Homo sapiens: one gene and its partner. The gene in region 1 interacts genetically with each later gene. Each region holds a gene or a part of one and is shown on either strand. Other genes may lie near its edges. The genes, in order: ING4 and WEE1.

Region 1 (3,817 bases):
TACTGGGGTGACAAATATTCATGCATTTATTCAAGTATTTACTGAGTACCTGCTCTTTGCAAGTCATAATTCTAAACACTATGGAAACAGGAGAGAATATGATAGCCATGTTCGGCCTGGGGAGACAGATACCAAATAACTAATTACACATTATTTTTTTTAATTTTTTTGTTTTTTGAAACAGTCTTGCTCTTTTGCCCGGGCTGCAACCTCTACCTCCCTGGTTCAAGCAATTGTCCTGCCTCAGTCTCTTGAGTAACTGGAACTACAGCCACAGGCCACCATGCCCATCTATTTTTTTTTTTTTTTTTTGAGACAGAGTCTCGCTCTGTCGCCCAGGCTGGAGTGCAGTGGAGCGATCTCGGCTCACTGAAAGCTCCACCTCCTGGATGCACGCCACTCTCCTGCCTCAGCCTCCCGAGTAGCTGGGACTACAGGCGCCCGCCACCACGGCCAGCTAATTTTTTTGTATTTTTAGTAGAGACGGGGTTTCACCATGTTAGCCAGGATGGTCTCAATCTCCTGACCTCGTAATCTGCTCTCCTCGGCCACCCAAAGTGCCGGGATTACAGGTGTGAGCCACCGCGCCTGGCCTAATTTTTGTTTTGTTTTGTTTTTGAGATGGAGTCGCACTCTGTCACCCAGGCTGAAGTGCAGTGGTGCGATCTCAGCTCACTGCAACCTCCACCTCCCGGATTTAAGCAATTCTTGTGCCTCAGCCTCCCAAGTATCTGGGATTACAGGTTTCACCATGTTGGCCAGGCTGGTCTTGAACTCCTGGCTTCAAGTGAGCCACCCGCCTCGGCCTCCCAAAGTGCTAGAATTACAGGCATGAGCCACCGTGCCTGGCCCTAATTTTTGTATTTTTAGTAGAGATGGGGTTTTGCCAGGCTGCCAAGGCTGGTCTTGAACTCCTGGCCTTGAGTGATCCACCTGCCTTCCAGAGTGCTGGATTACAGGCATGGGCCACCGCACCCAGCCAACTAATTACACATTTATTTAATTACAGTTGGATAAGTGCTTTAAAAAGGTGGCTAGAATACCTTGACATAGATCGAGGGCAGTTAACAGAGTCTGGGAAAGTTGAGTTTGAGCTGAACTTTGGAAGAACGAACAGGAATTTAATAGGCCAAGAGGGATGGGGTGGATGGGATGAGGAAAAGCGAGCGGTGCATTCCAACTAGAGAGAACAGCATGTGGAAAGCCAAATGGCAGGAGGAGCACAGGCCAGTTTGAGGCAGTGCGAGGAGGCCAGTATGGGCAAAGCAGAGCACAAAGGGAGACTGACATGAGTTCAGGCTGGTGTGAGGTAAGCAAGGGCCAGAAAGCGCAGAACATCTTCAGAGCAGTAGGAAGTGACCAGAAGGTTATAAGCGGGAGAGTGACTTGATTAGGTTTGCATTTTTTATTTTTGTGTTTGTTTTTGTTTTTGTTTTTTTGAGTCAGTGTCTTGCTCTGTCATCCAGGCTGGAGTGCATTGGCGTGATCTCGGCTCACTGAAATGTCCACCTCCCAGGTTCAAGGGATTTTTGTGCCCCAGCCTCCCAAGTAGCTGGGATTACAGGCATGTGCACCAAGCCTGGCTAAGTTTTTGTATTTTTGGTAGAGACAGAGTTTCACCATGTTGCCCAGGCTGGTCTTGAACTCCTCAGCTCAGCTGATGCGCCCACCTGGGCCTCCCAAAGTGCTGGGATTACAGGCATGAGCCACCGTGCCTGGCCAGGTTTGCATTTTTTAAAAAGGACATTCTGGCTACTATATGGAAGTAGATTGGAAGTGTTATGTGTATAATAGAGGATACCAGGAGACTATTTGTAATTTGAGGACAAAGAGCTTGGAGGCAGAGATGGAAAATAAAAGAAAGGGGCCCGTCTTAGTGGCTCATGCCAGTAATCCCAGCACTTTGGGAGATCAAGGCGGGCGGATCACCTGAGGCCAGGAGTTCAAGACCAGTCTGGCCAAAATGGTGAAACCCTGTGTCTACTAAAAATACAAAAATTAGTCGGGTGTGGTGGCGCGCGCCTGTGGTCCCAGCTACTCCAGAGGCTGAGGCAGGAGAATCACTTGAACCCAGGAGGTGGAGGCTGCAGTGAGCCAAGATCGTGCCACTGCACTCCAGCCTGGGCAACAGAGCCAGACTCCGTCTCAAAAAACAAAAAAGGAAAAGAAAGGGAAGAGCTTTTTTTTTTTTTTTTGGAGACAGAGTCTCGCTCTGTCACCAGGCTGGAGTGCAGTAGTGCAGTCTTGGCTCACTGCAACCTCTGCCTCCCAGGTTCAAGTGATTCTCCTGCCTCAGCCTCCTGAATAGCTGGGATTACAGGTACGTGCCACCACACCTGGCTAATTTTTATATTTTTAGTAGAAACAGGCTTTCACCATGTTGGCCAGGCTGGTCTCGAACTCCTGACCTCGTGATCCACCCGCCTCAACCTCCCAAAGTGCTGGGATTACAGGCTTGAGCCACCACACCTGACGGGAAGAGCTTATTTATAAAGGAAGGTCACTGAAGGCGAAAAGGGTGGGATAGCCATGCAGAAATGGAAAGGTTTTGTAGAGAAAGAGTTAAGCATGGCCTGTCATGAGAGAACTGATCCATCCTGTCACAGATAAATCCAGAGGTTCAGAGGAAGGAAAACTGAGCTGCACTTTATTTTTTGTTTGTTTGTTTGTTTGTTTGAGATGGAGTCTCACTGTGTCGCCCAGGCTGGAGTGCAGTGGTGCGATCTCGGCTCACTGCAAACTCCGCCTCCCAGGTTCATGCCATTCTCCTGCCTCAGCCTCCTGAGTAGCTGGGAGTACAGGCGCCCGCCATCGCACCTGGCTAATTTTTTGTATTTTTAGTAGAGACGGGGTTTCACCATGTTAGCCAGGATGGTCTCAATCTCCTGACCTCGTGATCTGCTCTCCTCGGCCTCCCAAAGTGCTGGGATTACAGGTGTGAGCCACCATGCCTGGCCATTTGTTTGTTTTTGAGACAGGGACTTGCTCTATTGCCCAGGCTGGAGTGCAGTGGCTCAATCACGGCTCACTGCAACCTCTGCCTCCTGGATTCAAGTGATTCTCATGCCTCAGCCTCCCAAGTAGCTGGGATTAGAGATGCCCACCGTCACACTAGGCTAATTTTCATATTTTTAATAGAGATGGAGGTCTCGCCATGTTGGCCAGGCTGGTCTTGAACTCCTGGCCTTGAGTGATCCACCCCCTTGGCCTCCCAAAGTGCTGGGATTGCAGGCGTGAGCCACCATGTCCGGCCTGAACTGCACTTTAAAAGGAGCTGTAAGGCCTATGCATAGTCAGTCCTGTGATTGTTTCTCTCTCTTCCCTAGGTATTGAAAACCTTCCCTTTGAATTACAGAGAAACTTTCAGCTCATGAGGGACCTAGACCAAAGAACAGAGGGTATGTATAGAGTAAAAAGTTTTTGTATCTAATGAGTGTGTGTAATCATTTATTTTTCTACTTGATGTTACCGTATCATCTGGTATGATCTGGAGAACTGTGGCTTCTCTCGCTCCTTTTTTACGCTCTTGGAATTCTTAAAACAGGATAATGATCCTCATTTCTGTGTCAGCTTTTTCATAACAAATAGAGTATTGTGAAAACGCCTCAAGAATTCAAAGATGCTGTGTTCTTTATGTCTTCCTGGAGAATAATTAGCCAGGCTGGCTCACACCTGTAATCCCAGCACTTTGGGAGGCCTAGGCGGGCAGGTAACTTGAGGCCAGGAGTTTGAGATCAGCCTGGCCACATGGTGAAACCCCATCTCTACTAAAAATACAAAAACTAGCCAGGTGTGGTGGCACGCACCAGTAATCCCA
Region 2 (3,817 bases), on another chromosome or scaffold:
ATACCAGCCACTAGGGAGGCTGAGGCAGGAGAATCGCTTGAACCCAGGAGGCAGAGGTTGCAGTGAGCCGAGATCGCACTACTGCACTCCAGCCTGGGCAACAGAGCAAGACCCTGTCTCAAAAGAAAAAAAAAAGTATATATATATATATATATATATATATATATATATATATATATATGTGTGTGTGTGTGTGTGTGTGTGTGTGTGTGTGTGTGTGTGCGCGCGCGTGCACGCACACACACGCACAAATATTTAGTATTAAATTTATGTTACATTTACTGGAGTCATCTATACGTTTTACTTTCTTTATAGGACAACTTATTTTGTGATGGTATTTGTAAATTGGAAGGTTTTTTTTTTTTTTTTTTGAGACAGTCTCGCTCTGTCGCCCAGGCTGGAGTGCAGTGGTGCGATCTCAGCTCACTTCAACTTCCTCCTCCCGGGTTCAAGCAATTCTCCTGCCTCAGCCTCCAGAGTAGCTGGGACTACAGGTGCCTGCCACCACACCCAGCTAATTTTTTGTATTTTAGTAGAGACGAGGTTTCACCGTGTTGTCCAGGCTGGTGGTGAACTCCCAAGCTTAGGCAATCCACCCGCCTCAGCCTCCCAAAGTGCTGGGATTACAGGCGTGAGGCACCACGCCCGGCGAATTTTTTTTTTCTTTTTTTGAGACGGAGTCTCACTTTGTTGCCTAGGATGGAGTGCAATGGTGCAATCTCGGCTCACTGCAACCTCCGCCTCCCGGGTTCAAGCAATTCTTCTGCCTCAGCCTCCCGAGTAACTAGGACTATAGGTGCGCACCACTACACCTGGCTAATTTTTGTAATTTTAGTAGAGACGGGGTTTCATCATATTGGCCAGGCTGGTCTCGAACTCCTGCCTCGTGATCTGCCTGCCTTGGCCTGCCAGAGTGCTGGGATTACAGGCGTCAGCCACTGCACCTGGTCTAAATTTGAAGATTTTTAAACTTCACATCCCTTAATATTTTCAACTTTTATACCTTATAAGGGTCTATTATATTTGTCTAACACTTTATATGAGTACAGCTATTCCTTAAGAATTCACATTTACTGCCTTAAATCCAAATATATTTTTGTCTTTTGAAAATAAAAAACATGCTGGGCACGGTGGCTTACGCCTGTAATCTCAGCACTTTGGGAGGCCATGGTGGGCAGATCACAAGGTCAATAGTTCAAGACCAGCTTAGCCAACATGGTGAAACCCGTCTCTACTAAAAATACAAAAAATTAGCCGGGCATGGTGGTGTATGCCTGTAATCCCAGCTACTCGGGAGGCGGAGGCAGGAGAATCGCTTGAACGTGGGAGGCAGAGGTTACAGAGAGCTGAGACTGTGCCACTGCACTCCAGCCTGGGCAACAGAGCGAGACTCCATCTCAAAAAAAGAAAAAAAGAAAGAAGAAACTTTAGTGACTTGTTAACATACGCATATGAAATTCTAGCATATAACTCATAAAGTTGTACAAAATGACTGAAATTCTCACAAATCAACAGGTTTCCAAAGATTAATAAAACCTCACTAAATTCATCTAGCCTAAGATGCTTAACTTGAATCCATAATCCTTAGTTATAACTTCCAATTTATAGGAAATATAGGAGAAAAAGGAACAAGCTAAATGATACAAGAAGCAACTAGTCAAATCCAGAAAAAGGGATAGCTTGCAAGATAAGTGTATATTATTTTTACAAAGCAGAGGATGGGTTCTGAAAAAGAAAAACTGATATAACCAGATGCAATGCATGATCCTTAAGTAGATACTAATTTGAACAAATCAACTATTAAGGACTTGAGTCAACTGGGGAAATTTTAATATGGTCTGGCCTAGTGGAAGAGTGGGGCTTTAAACACAGATTTTTAGTGCCCTCATTAGTATCCCACCTGTAGTTCCTGTAAGATGCAGCAAAAATTTCTGGCTTTTAATAAAAATGAATTTATCTGGGCATGGTGGCACATGCCTATAGTCCCGGCTACTCGGAAGACTGAGGTGGGATGACTGCTTGAGCACGGGATGGGGAAGTTGCAGTGAGCGGAGATGGTGCCACTGCATTCCGGCCTGGGCCACAGAATGAGACACTGTCTCAAAAAAGTTTATCTCAAATTTTGGGGATTAACAAGGGAAGAGATGAATAGAAATCATAAAACAATATTGGTAAGTGGATCTAAGGCCTTTTAAAACTAACAATGAGAAAACAGAAGATATATATTTTTTCAATGTTGTCATAATGAAGTAATTTATTCTCTATAACCCCAAAGAACACAGGTCAGAAGATCTGCAATACTTACTAGGTTTTATATCCATGTGAACCAAAGACATTGAATGAATATACCTCAAGCCTCGGCCAACTTGCAAAAGGAGATCCTTCAACTCTGCTTCTTTAAAGTAACTCATGATTCTGTAGTTTTCACTTATAGCATCAGCTAAACTTCCACCTAACAAAGATAGAAAATATTAGCATTTTCTTCTTTCTGAAATATTTTCTTTCTTCCATCTTTACCAAATGAGTCTCAACCAACCAATCTCAACCAAGAAAGTGTTATTTTATAGGACCTTCTCCCTTCAACCTGCTTGTGAAATCAAAATTTTATTGTTTTTTCAATAGGTAATACATTTGCATGGGTACAAAATAAAATGTAAAGTCTCTCTCTCAATCATACACCTCAGCAATCCACCTGTTTCTTTCTCAGAGTAAACCAGTATTATCAGGTTGGCTTTTTTTTTGTTTGTTTTTGTTTTTAATTTATAAGAGACAGGGTCTATCTATGTTGCCCAGCTGGAATCCAGTGGCTATTCACAGGCTTGATCCCACTACTTATCAGCATAGGAGTTTTGACTTGTGCTGTTTCCAACTTAGGCCAGTTTACCCCTCTTTAGGCAACCTGGTGGTGCCCCACTCCACAGAGGTCACCATACTGATGCTCAACTTAGATCGGCATAGATCGGCATAGATGCTCAACATAGATCGGCACTACAGCCTAGAATTCCCAAACCCAAATTCAAATTCCCTGCTTCAGACTCCCAAGCAGCTGGGACTACAGGCACTGCCACCACGCCCAGCTCAGGTCTATGTATTCTTTTCAACTTTTTGCATAAATAACAGCATATGTTCATTATCTTAAAGATCACTCTATACCAATATACAAAGACAACCCATTTCTTCTTGTCTTTATAGAATTCCATTGTATAATTGAGTAGAAATGCATTTATTGGCTGGGCACAGTGGCTCACGCCTGTAATCCCAGCACTATGGGAGGCCGAGGCAGGTAGATCACGAGGTCAGGAGTTCGAGACCATGCAGGCCAACATGGCGAAACCCCGTTTCTACTAAAAATACAAAAATTAGCTGGGTGTGGTGGCGTGCACCTGTAATCCCAGCTACTCAGAAGGCAGGAGAATTGCTTGAACCTGGGAGGCGGAGGTTGCAGTGAGCCGATATCGGGCCATTGCACTCCAGCCTGGTGGCAGAGTGAGACTCAGTCCCCCGAAAAAAAAAAAAAAAAAGAAAGAAAGAAAGAAATGCATTTATCAGTCCCTCATTTGATGGACATTTTAAAATTATTTCCAAGCCTTTGCTATTACATACTATGGCCTAATAAATAACCTTGTACATTGGTAATTTCACGTACATTTAGTATATCACCTAGAAGCCAAATTGCTGGGTTAAAGGGTATGCACATTTGTAATATATGGAGATGGTGTGTTTTACACACACACACACACACACACACACACTCTTCTCCACAGAGAAGGCTGTACCAATATATATGCCCATTGTCAATGCATGAGCATACCTGTTT

What was found.
Region 2: changes in ING4 (region 1) and WEE1 are lethal when combined (synthetic lethality), as found in Homo sapiens cells (one large-scale study listed by BioGRID).

What each region holds. Positions count from the first base shown.
Region 1 is NC_000012.12:6,656,308-6,660,124, reverse strand, and holds part of ING4 (inhibitor of growth protein 4), read left to right. Parts: intron 1-3,325; exon of another isoform or gene 3,326-3,326; coding exon 3,327-3,398; intron 3,399-3,817.
Region 2 is NC_000011.10:9,580,167-9,583,983, reverse strand, and holds part of WEE1 (wee1-like protein kinase), read right to left. Parts: intron 2,453-3,817; coding exon 2,306-2,452; intron 1-2,305. UniProt on the Homo sapiens protein: Acts as a negative regulator of entry into mitosis (G2 to M transition) by protecting the nucleus from cytoplasmically activated cyclin B1-complexed CDK1 before the onset of mitosis by mediating phosphorylation of CDK1 on 'Tyr-15'.